Homo sapiens: one gene and its partner. The gene in region 2 interacts genetically with the main gene of each other region. Each region holds a gene or a part of one and is shown on either strand. Other genes may lie near its edges. The genes, in order: CDC25A and HCRT.

Region 1 (3,815 bases), on a different chromosome or scaffold from region 2:
GGTTTAAATACCCCACTTAAATCCAGAAAAGATGCACAGTAGCCAGGTTATAATAAAAATGGGGGCATCTTTGGTTAAGGTATAGTTAAGATGGTAAATTTGGAGGGAGTGGGGATGGGCAGAGTAGCAAATGCCTTTCAAAATTGTGTTCAAAGTCTTTTTTTCTACTTGGTCTTTTAAAGACTAATTTCCCAGGCTGGGCGCGGTGGCTCACGCCTGTAATCCCAACACTGTGGGATCACTTGAGGTCACAAGTTCAATAACAGCCTGGCCAACATGAAGAAACCCCATCTCTATTAAAAATACAAAAAAATTAGCCAGGTGTGGTGGTGCGTGCCTTTAATCCCAGCTACCCAGGAGGCTGAGGCACGAGAATCACTTGAAACCAGGAGGTGGTGGTTGCAGTGAGCTAAGATTTGCACCACTGCACTCCAGCCTGGGTGACAGAGCAAGACTCTGTCTCAATAAATAAATAAATAAATAAAGACAAATTTTCCAGAGCCCAAGGGAAGCCAATCTGACCAGTGGTAGCAAGAGTCAGCTCTCTAAACGCATCTCAGCCTATTCTCGACTCCATGTGTCTTGGCCTGGCTTTTCCTTCTGCACAGAATGTCCTTTCACATCTCAGTAAACCATTCATTTTCAAGTTGATGCTAACATTTCAATGTCACTTCTTTGAAATCTTCCTGATAGTCCCCAGTAGAATGGATCACTCCCACATCTGCTCCCATAGAGACCGGGGATTTTCTTCCTCTTTTGTGTGAAGTTTATTTTCCATTACAGCTCCCAGCAATGGTTAGTTTGTAATAACCATTTGTGGAAGACATTTCCCCACTATTAAGAGCTTACAAGCCCATGCTTATGACTCTAAAATCAAATCTATAAAACTAACAGCCACTTCCAAAGTGTTCTCACATTTTATGTAATTTTATGCCTATCAAAATGACCTGGTAAATTTACTCATAACATTTGTACTGCGTTAACATATTTTCTCAAAAGCTATGCACATGAATGTACTATAATCCATAAGTGATCTCAAAACTGTAGCTTGGCTGGGCACGGTGGCTCATGCCTGTAATCCCAGCACTTTGGGAGGCAGGTGGATGGATCACCTGAGGTCAAGAGTTCGAGACCAGCCTGGCCAACATAGTGAAACCTCGTCTCTACTAAAAATACCAAAAAAATTAGCCGGGAGTGGTGGCGTAAGCCTGTAGTCCCAGCTACTCAGAAGGCTGAGCCAGAAGAAGCACTTGAACCCAGGAGGCAGAGGTTGCAGCAAGTCAAGACTACACCACTGCACTGCACCCCAGCCTGGGCAACAGAGGGAGACTCTGTCTCAAAAACAAAACAAAACAAACAAACAAAAAAACTGTAGCTCATTTGTTCTGTAATTATAGTTCAGGTTATTGAGAATTAAAAAATATGAACTTATCAATTTAGATGTGTACCTAAGGGTGTATATCTCTGAACATACAGGTGTATATATCTGTATAGGCACATTCTTGCTTCTAACTTTGAAAGTATCCCTATGATGAAAACACGAATCTATAGCATGTGTATGTGTGTGTATATATATGTGATTTTGAATATATATACACACATACACTATAGATTCTGTATCTACATATACTATGCTTTCTGTTTGAAAGTATCCCTGATGGAAACACAAATCTATACTGTGTATGTGTGTGTGTGAGTATATATATATATATATATATATATATAAAATATATATTATATATAATTTTTAAAATCGAAAATATCTACCTGAAAATACCCAGCCTCAGGTAGGTATTTTCAATGAAAAACAAAACAAAACAAAACAAACAAACAAAACAGCAACAAAAAACATCCAGCCAGGCACAGTGGCTCATGCCTGTAATCCCAGCACTTTGGGAGGTCGAGGTGGGCAGATCACCTGAGGTCAGGAGATCGAGACTAGCCTGGCCAACATAATGTAACCCCGTCTCTACTGAAAATACAAAGATTAGCTGGGTGTGGTGGCAGGCACCTGTAATCCCAGCTACTCGGGAGGCTGAGGCAGGAGAATCACTTGAACCTGGGAGGCAGAGGTTGCAGTGAGCCAAGATTGTGCCACTGCACTCTAGAATGGGCAACAAGAGCGAGACTCCGTCTCAAAAAAAAAAACAAAAAACACAGAAACAAAAAAAATCCTGTGAGTTACTGTTGCTTGTCTAATTTTATGCTAGGTTCTGTGGAATATAAATGAGAATAACCTAAAAAAAGTAAAGTATTCAGGCTAAAGGCTTCAGATAGGCTTTTTTCAAACTGACTAGATGGTAAAAGCTAGGAATGACCATGGTCCCTCCTAACCCACACTCCTTATACATCAGGAGACATGCAGAGAGATATCATGACTAAAGGTCATAATTTGTAGGTAGCCAAAGTGAGGCCTAAAACCCAGATCCCCAAATCCTATCATGCATTTCAATCTTTGGCTATACTCAACTAAGGACTACTCTGTCCAGTGCCCCAATCACGCAGGGCTTCCTCCAGACACACTAGAACAACTCACAAGGTTTGTAGTTCTCATGACGAGAGGAGCTGTCCAGAGGCTTGCCATGCACGAGGGGGTCTCCTCCTCATTCTAAAGAAACAGAAAAACTGATTTTAAAAAGAGCCTGTAGAGACTAACATTTGTTTAAGTGCTTTAGGTGTGTTTCTCCCTGAACAATACCAGATAGGCCTGGATAGGAAGTATCCTTAATGTACCATCCTATACCGTTCTGATTTCATGTTTCTTGCATATAGATTGTTAGTTAGCTCCTTCAGGGTAAGAAGGATCATGTGTCTTCTTTTGATGCCCCCATCCCCCAATCCAAAGGATTTAATAAGGCTGGTAGCCCTATTATTAAATGAATTATCACCAAATGAACAAAAATATCAGCTAAGCAAGCCCCGGGGAACTGCTGTTGCTGTTCTTTTTCACATCACATGCCTTCTCCAGAGGTAATTAATTAGTAGAACAAATAGGAACACACACACACACACACGGTACCTTCAGATTCTCTCCATCGAGAAGGTCCACGAAGCCATCATCCTCATCAGACAAAGTGGCTGTCACAGGTGACTGGGGTGTAAAAAGAGGAATGAAATTCCCTGGTTCACTGCTATCTCTTTCATTTGAGGAAAGCTGTAAGACAAAATTCATGGATTAATAATGAGAGCTCTGATCCACTTTCATTTCCTTGAATGGGTCACTAGTTTTTATGATGAAAACATACTATGTTATACTTGTTATACAAAGCAAAATTTTAGCCATTACTGATTATATGAAAATGTATCCCAAGATTATAAATGATTTGATGACCACACACAGCCCTGAGTAGTCAGTAGCCTTTACAGAGAACTCTTGCCAGAAGCAATTCACCTTATAATGGGTACTAGAGATAGCCTCTTGTGAAGAACAAGGTTTCTTTTATTAGAAGGTTGCATCAGTGAACACCGATCAGCATTGAGGACTGTGACAGTATGAGAATCTGCTGAAATGAGTTAGGGCAAGCAGATGCAAATCTCTATAAAGACCATAAAATGGCCTAGAGAATGCACTTATATATAACTCCAGTTCTGACAGGGGGGAATAAAGGGTAACTTCCTTCTATAAAATCTATCCTCGTTCTTTAGACTTGGGATTTAAATGCTCAGTTTTTAAACGAGGAATTACTGTGTGCCAGATACTACGATATAATCTTTATACATATAATCCAATAGAAGCCTCACAATACACTAAAGGTAGCTAATCCTTTCCTTTTTCTTTAGCAAATCAGGAAACTGGTGCTTAAGAGGTTACCAAG
Region 2 (3,640 bases):
GACTGTAACTGTGTCCCTTCCTGAGCCTCTCCACTCCCCACACCCTATACCCCATGATGCAGCCATTCTGGATGACTCATTGTTGAAGTTCAAATTCCCTGCCTTTTCAGCAGGATTGACTCCCACCCCTTCCTAGCTGGATTCTGCTGCTCTATGCAGCTTGCCTGCCTTCCTTCCTTCCTTCCTTCCTTCCTTCCTTCCTTCCTTCCTTCCTTTCTTTCCTTTCTTTCTTTTCTTTTTTCTTTTTCTTTCTTTTTTTTTTTTTTTTGACAGTGCCTCCTTCTGTTGCCCAGGCTGGAGTGCAGTGGCCCAATTATGGCTCAAACTCAAACTCCTGGGCTCAAGCAATCCTCTCGCCCACCATACCCCGCTAATTAAAAAAACTTTTTGGAGAGATGTCTCACTCACTATGTTGCCTAGGCTCGTCTCGAACTCCTTGCTTCAAGGGATCCTCCTGCTTTGGCCTCCCAAAGTGCTGGGATTACAGGCGTGAGCACCGCGCCCGACCGCTGCAACCTTTCTTGCTTTCCTTCCCCTTCCGCGTCTCTGGGTAAAGTCCCCGCTACAGAATGCCTAGCAGAGCATCGTAGGAGTCCCGCATGGCCCGATCCAAGCATGCACCTGTGCAGTTCTCTCTGTGCCCCAGGGCCTTGCACTGGGAACTCCCCAACCAAGAGTGTTTCCGATTCAACCACGCAAAAGCTAAGGCTGGTGCCCGACAGCCGGGCTTCCAGGCCCAGCTGTCCTCCGCAAGACGCTTTGCCACCCCGGATGGGCAGGACGCGACCGCACAGGAACAGAGACCAGTCACACGAATGGAGACTCGTCTTTATTGCCTTTTTTCTGGGGGCTGACGCTGGGTGGGCAGAGGGCAGAGGCCTGGGCCAGGACAGGGCCCGAAGAACGACTCAGATCCCGGACTGTCCTCCGGGCGCGACGGAGGCGGCGGCCGGGGCGGAACAGCGGCGCCCGAGGCAGGGGCGCGGCGCTGGCTCTGCGCCTGCGCGGCGGCCCATGGTCAGGATGCCCGCGGCGTGGTTGCCGCTGGCCTGCAGGAGGCGCTGCAGCCGACCCTGGAGGCCCGGGGGCCCGGACCTCCGCTTGCCCAGCGTGAGGATGCCGGCCGCGTGATTGCCCGCGCCGTGCAGCAGCTCGTAGAGGCGGCAAGAGCAAGTCTTTTGACGACAGCAGTCGGGCAGGGGCTGTGCAGCCGCCCCGGACGACAACAGCGCGGGCGGCAGCAGCAGCAGCAGCAGCAGTAGCGTCACGGCGGCCCAGGAGACCTAGGGAGACGGAGACAGGGCGCTGGGGGGGTCTTCCCACGGCGCCCGCCACCAGCTCCCACGCCCAGGACCTGCCCCTCTGGCTCCGCGCCCCCTCCAAGCCTGCACTCCTTTCTGGCTGTCACTTAGTTCTCCTTGCTTTGCGCCCTTGCTGGTATCGGCCTACTTTCCCTGCTCCTCCTTCAAGACCCAGCAGAGCATCTCCCCCAGGAAGCCTTTTGAGACCCCCTGGGCAGAGTGAATCCCCCTTTTCTCTGGAGACTTAGGCCACTGTGCCACCACTAGGGCACTTGCCACTCCACCTGAAAACAGGAGTGTCTGTCTGCAGCAGAAGTTGTAAACTTGGGAAAAACCCGGGCCCTACTGAGTCCCCCCAACTTCCTCTCCACAGCAGGGAAACACATGGAAATCAGGAACTAGCAAGACTCCAGAATGCTCTCTCATCTGCCTGCCCCCTTGCAGGAGTGACTGAACTCCGTTGCTTTGAACCAGTTTCCTGCCCTTTCAGAGGGCACAGCTCCCTTACCTGTAAACTGGGTATACTAGAAATAATTTCTACTCTGCAAGGCTGTTGGGAGGATGACAAGAGATGACAGGTGCAAACGGAGCACCTGACACATAGAGCTCAGCAAACACAGGCTCTTAGCAAAACAGCACCCAACCCAATGTGAGCCAAGGCAGGTGCTCCTGCCTCAGAGCACACCCAGGAAAAGACCAAGAGTGGAGACACCTTTGGCCTTTCTTCCAGCCCTCTGAGCAAGCACTCTTTTTGCTTCTCTGGGATGGTGAGTCACCCCTCCATCCCTGGATCTTTACCTTTGTGGAAGGAAGGTTCATGGTGTCTGGCGCTCAGGGTGGGGTAGCCGGGAAAGGAGATGTCTGTGGTGGTTCAAAAAGCCAGGAACCTTGAGGCTGTCAATTGTGACCCACTCCCAGGGGTCTGGGGTTTATAGTGCTCTGAGGTGGCGGGGAATTGACAGGCACTTGCGTCCACACCCAGGCCAGACAAAGGCAAGTCTAAGATTAGCCTGCTGCAGGGGGGCCGTCTCCAGGCTGGGCCCAAGGAATGGCCGCTGCGGCGTTCAGAGGCCAGGGTTGGATCACTGTGCCCCTGATCACCCCCTTGTCTGTCTATCTGCTCCCTGGAGATGGGGCGGTCTCCGGGCACTAATGAGGCCACCTTGCACCCAGGAATCTGGGAGCACAAAAGAGGCGCTGGCCTGGGACAATATGGAGGGAGGCAGCTGCTAATTAGGGGCGGGAGAGAGGCAGACGCGAGACCCCACATTATGTGTGTGGGGGGTGGAGCAGCCAGCAGCAGTCCTCTCCCTCCCCTGCTTCTTGTCGCTGCTCCTGGGGACTGTCAGGCTCCAGGACCTTCTTCCTTCATGGAAAGGCTCCTTAGCTGCCCCCTCCCCCTAGCTTTTTTTCTCCCTTCTGCCCTTTCCACTAGCCTCTGAGATGGAAAACCTTGAAAACTCAGCCTAGACAGTGGGAGGTAAGAAGCCAAAACCAAGCCCAATTTCTCTTTCTTTCTTTTCTGTGTGTGTGTGTGTGACTAAATTTTGGTCTTGTTGCTCAGGCTGGAGTGCAGTGGTATGGTCATCTTGGCTCACTGCAACCTCCGCCTTGGGTTCAAGCGATTCTCCTGCCTCAACCTCCTGAATAGCTCCTGAATAGAATTACAGGCACACGCCACCACAACCAGCTAATTTTTGTATTTTTAATAGAGACAGGGTTTCACCATGTTAGCCAGGGTGGTCTCAAACTCCTGACCTCAAGTGATCCACCCACCTCAGTCTCCAAAAGTGTTGGGATTACAGGCGTGGGCCACTGCACCAGGCCCCCCCGCTTTTTTTTTCTTCCTTCCTTCTTTCCTTCTTCCTTCCTTCCTGCATTTCTTTCTTTCTTTCTCTCTCTCACTCTCTCCCTCTTTCTTTCTTTCTTCTTCTTCTTCTTTTTTTTTTTTTTGAGACGGAGTTTCACTCTTGTTGCCCAGGCTGGAGTGCAATGGCGCAATCTCAGCTCACTGCAACCTCCACCTCCAGGGTTCAAGCAATTCTCCTGCCTCTGCCTTCTGAGTAGCTGGGATTACAGGCATGCGCCACCATGCCTGGCTAATTTTGTATTTTTAGTAGAGACAGGGTTTCTCCATGTTGGTCAGGCTGGTCTGGAACTCCTGACCTCAGGTGATCCGCCTGCCTCAGCCACCCAAAGTGCTGGGATTACAGGCATGAGCCACCATGCCTGGCCTTCTCTCTTTCTTCATTTTCTTTTCTTTTTCTTTTCTTTCTTTTTTTTTTTTTTTTTTGAGACAGTCTCACTCTGTCGCCCAGGCTGGAGTGCAGTGGCGCGAT

The links.
Region 1: changes in HCRT (region 2) and CDC25A together harm fitness more than expected from each alone (negative genetic interaction), as found in Homo sapiens cells (one large-scale study listed by BioGRID).

Annotation. Positions count from the first base shown.
Region 1 is NC_000003.12:48,174,835-48,178,649, forward strand, and holds part of CDC25A (M-phase inducer phosphatase 1), read right to left. Parts: intron 3,155-3,815; coding exon 3,020-3,154; intron 2,609-3,019; coding exon 2,537-2,608; intron 1-2,536. UniProt on the Homo sapiens protein: Tyrosine protein phosphatase which functions as a dosage-dependent inducer of mitotic progression. Directly dephosphorylates CDK1 and stimulates its kinase activity. Also dephosphorylates CDK2 in complex with cyclin-E, in vitro.
Region 2 is NC_000017.11:42,183,246-42,186,885, forward strand, and holds HCRT (hypocretin neuropeptide precursor precursor), read right to left. Parts: upstream 2,208-3,640; 5' UTR 2,121-2,207; coding exon 2,100-2,120; intron 1,284-2,099; coding exon 909-1,283; 3' UTR 815-908; downstream 1-814. UniProt on the Homo sapiens protein: Neuropeptides that play a significant role in the regulation of food intake and sleep-wakefulness, possibly by coordinating the complex behavioral and physiologic responses of these complementary homeostatic functions.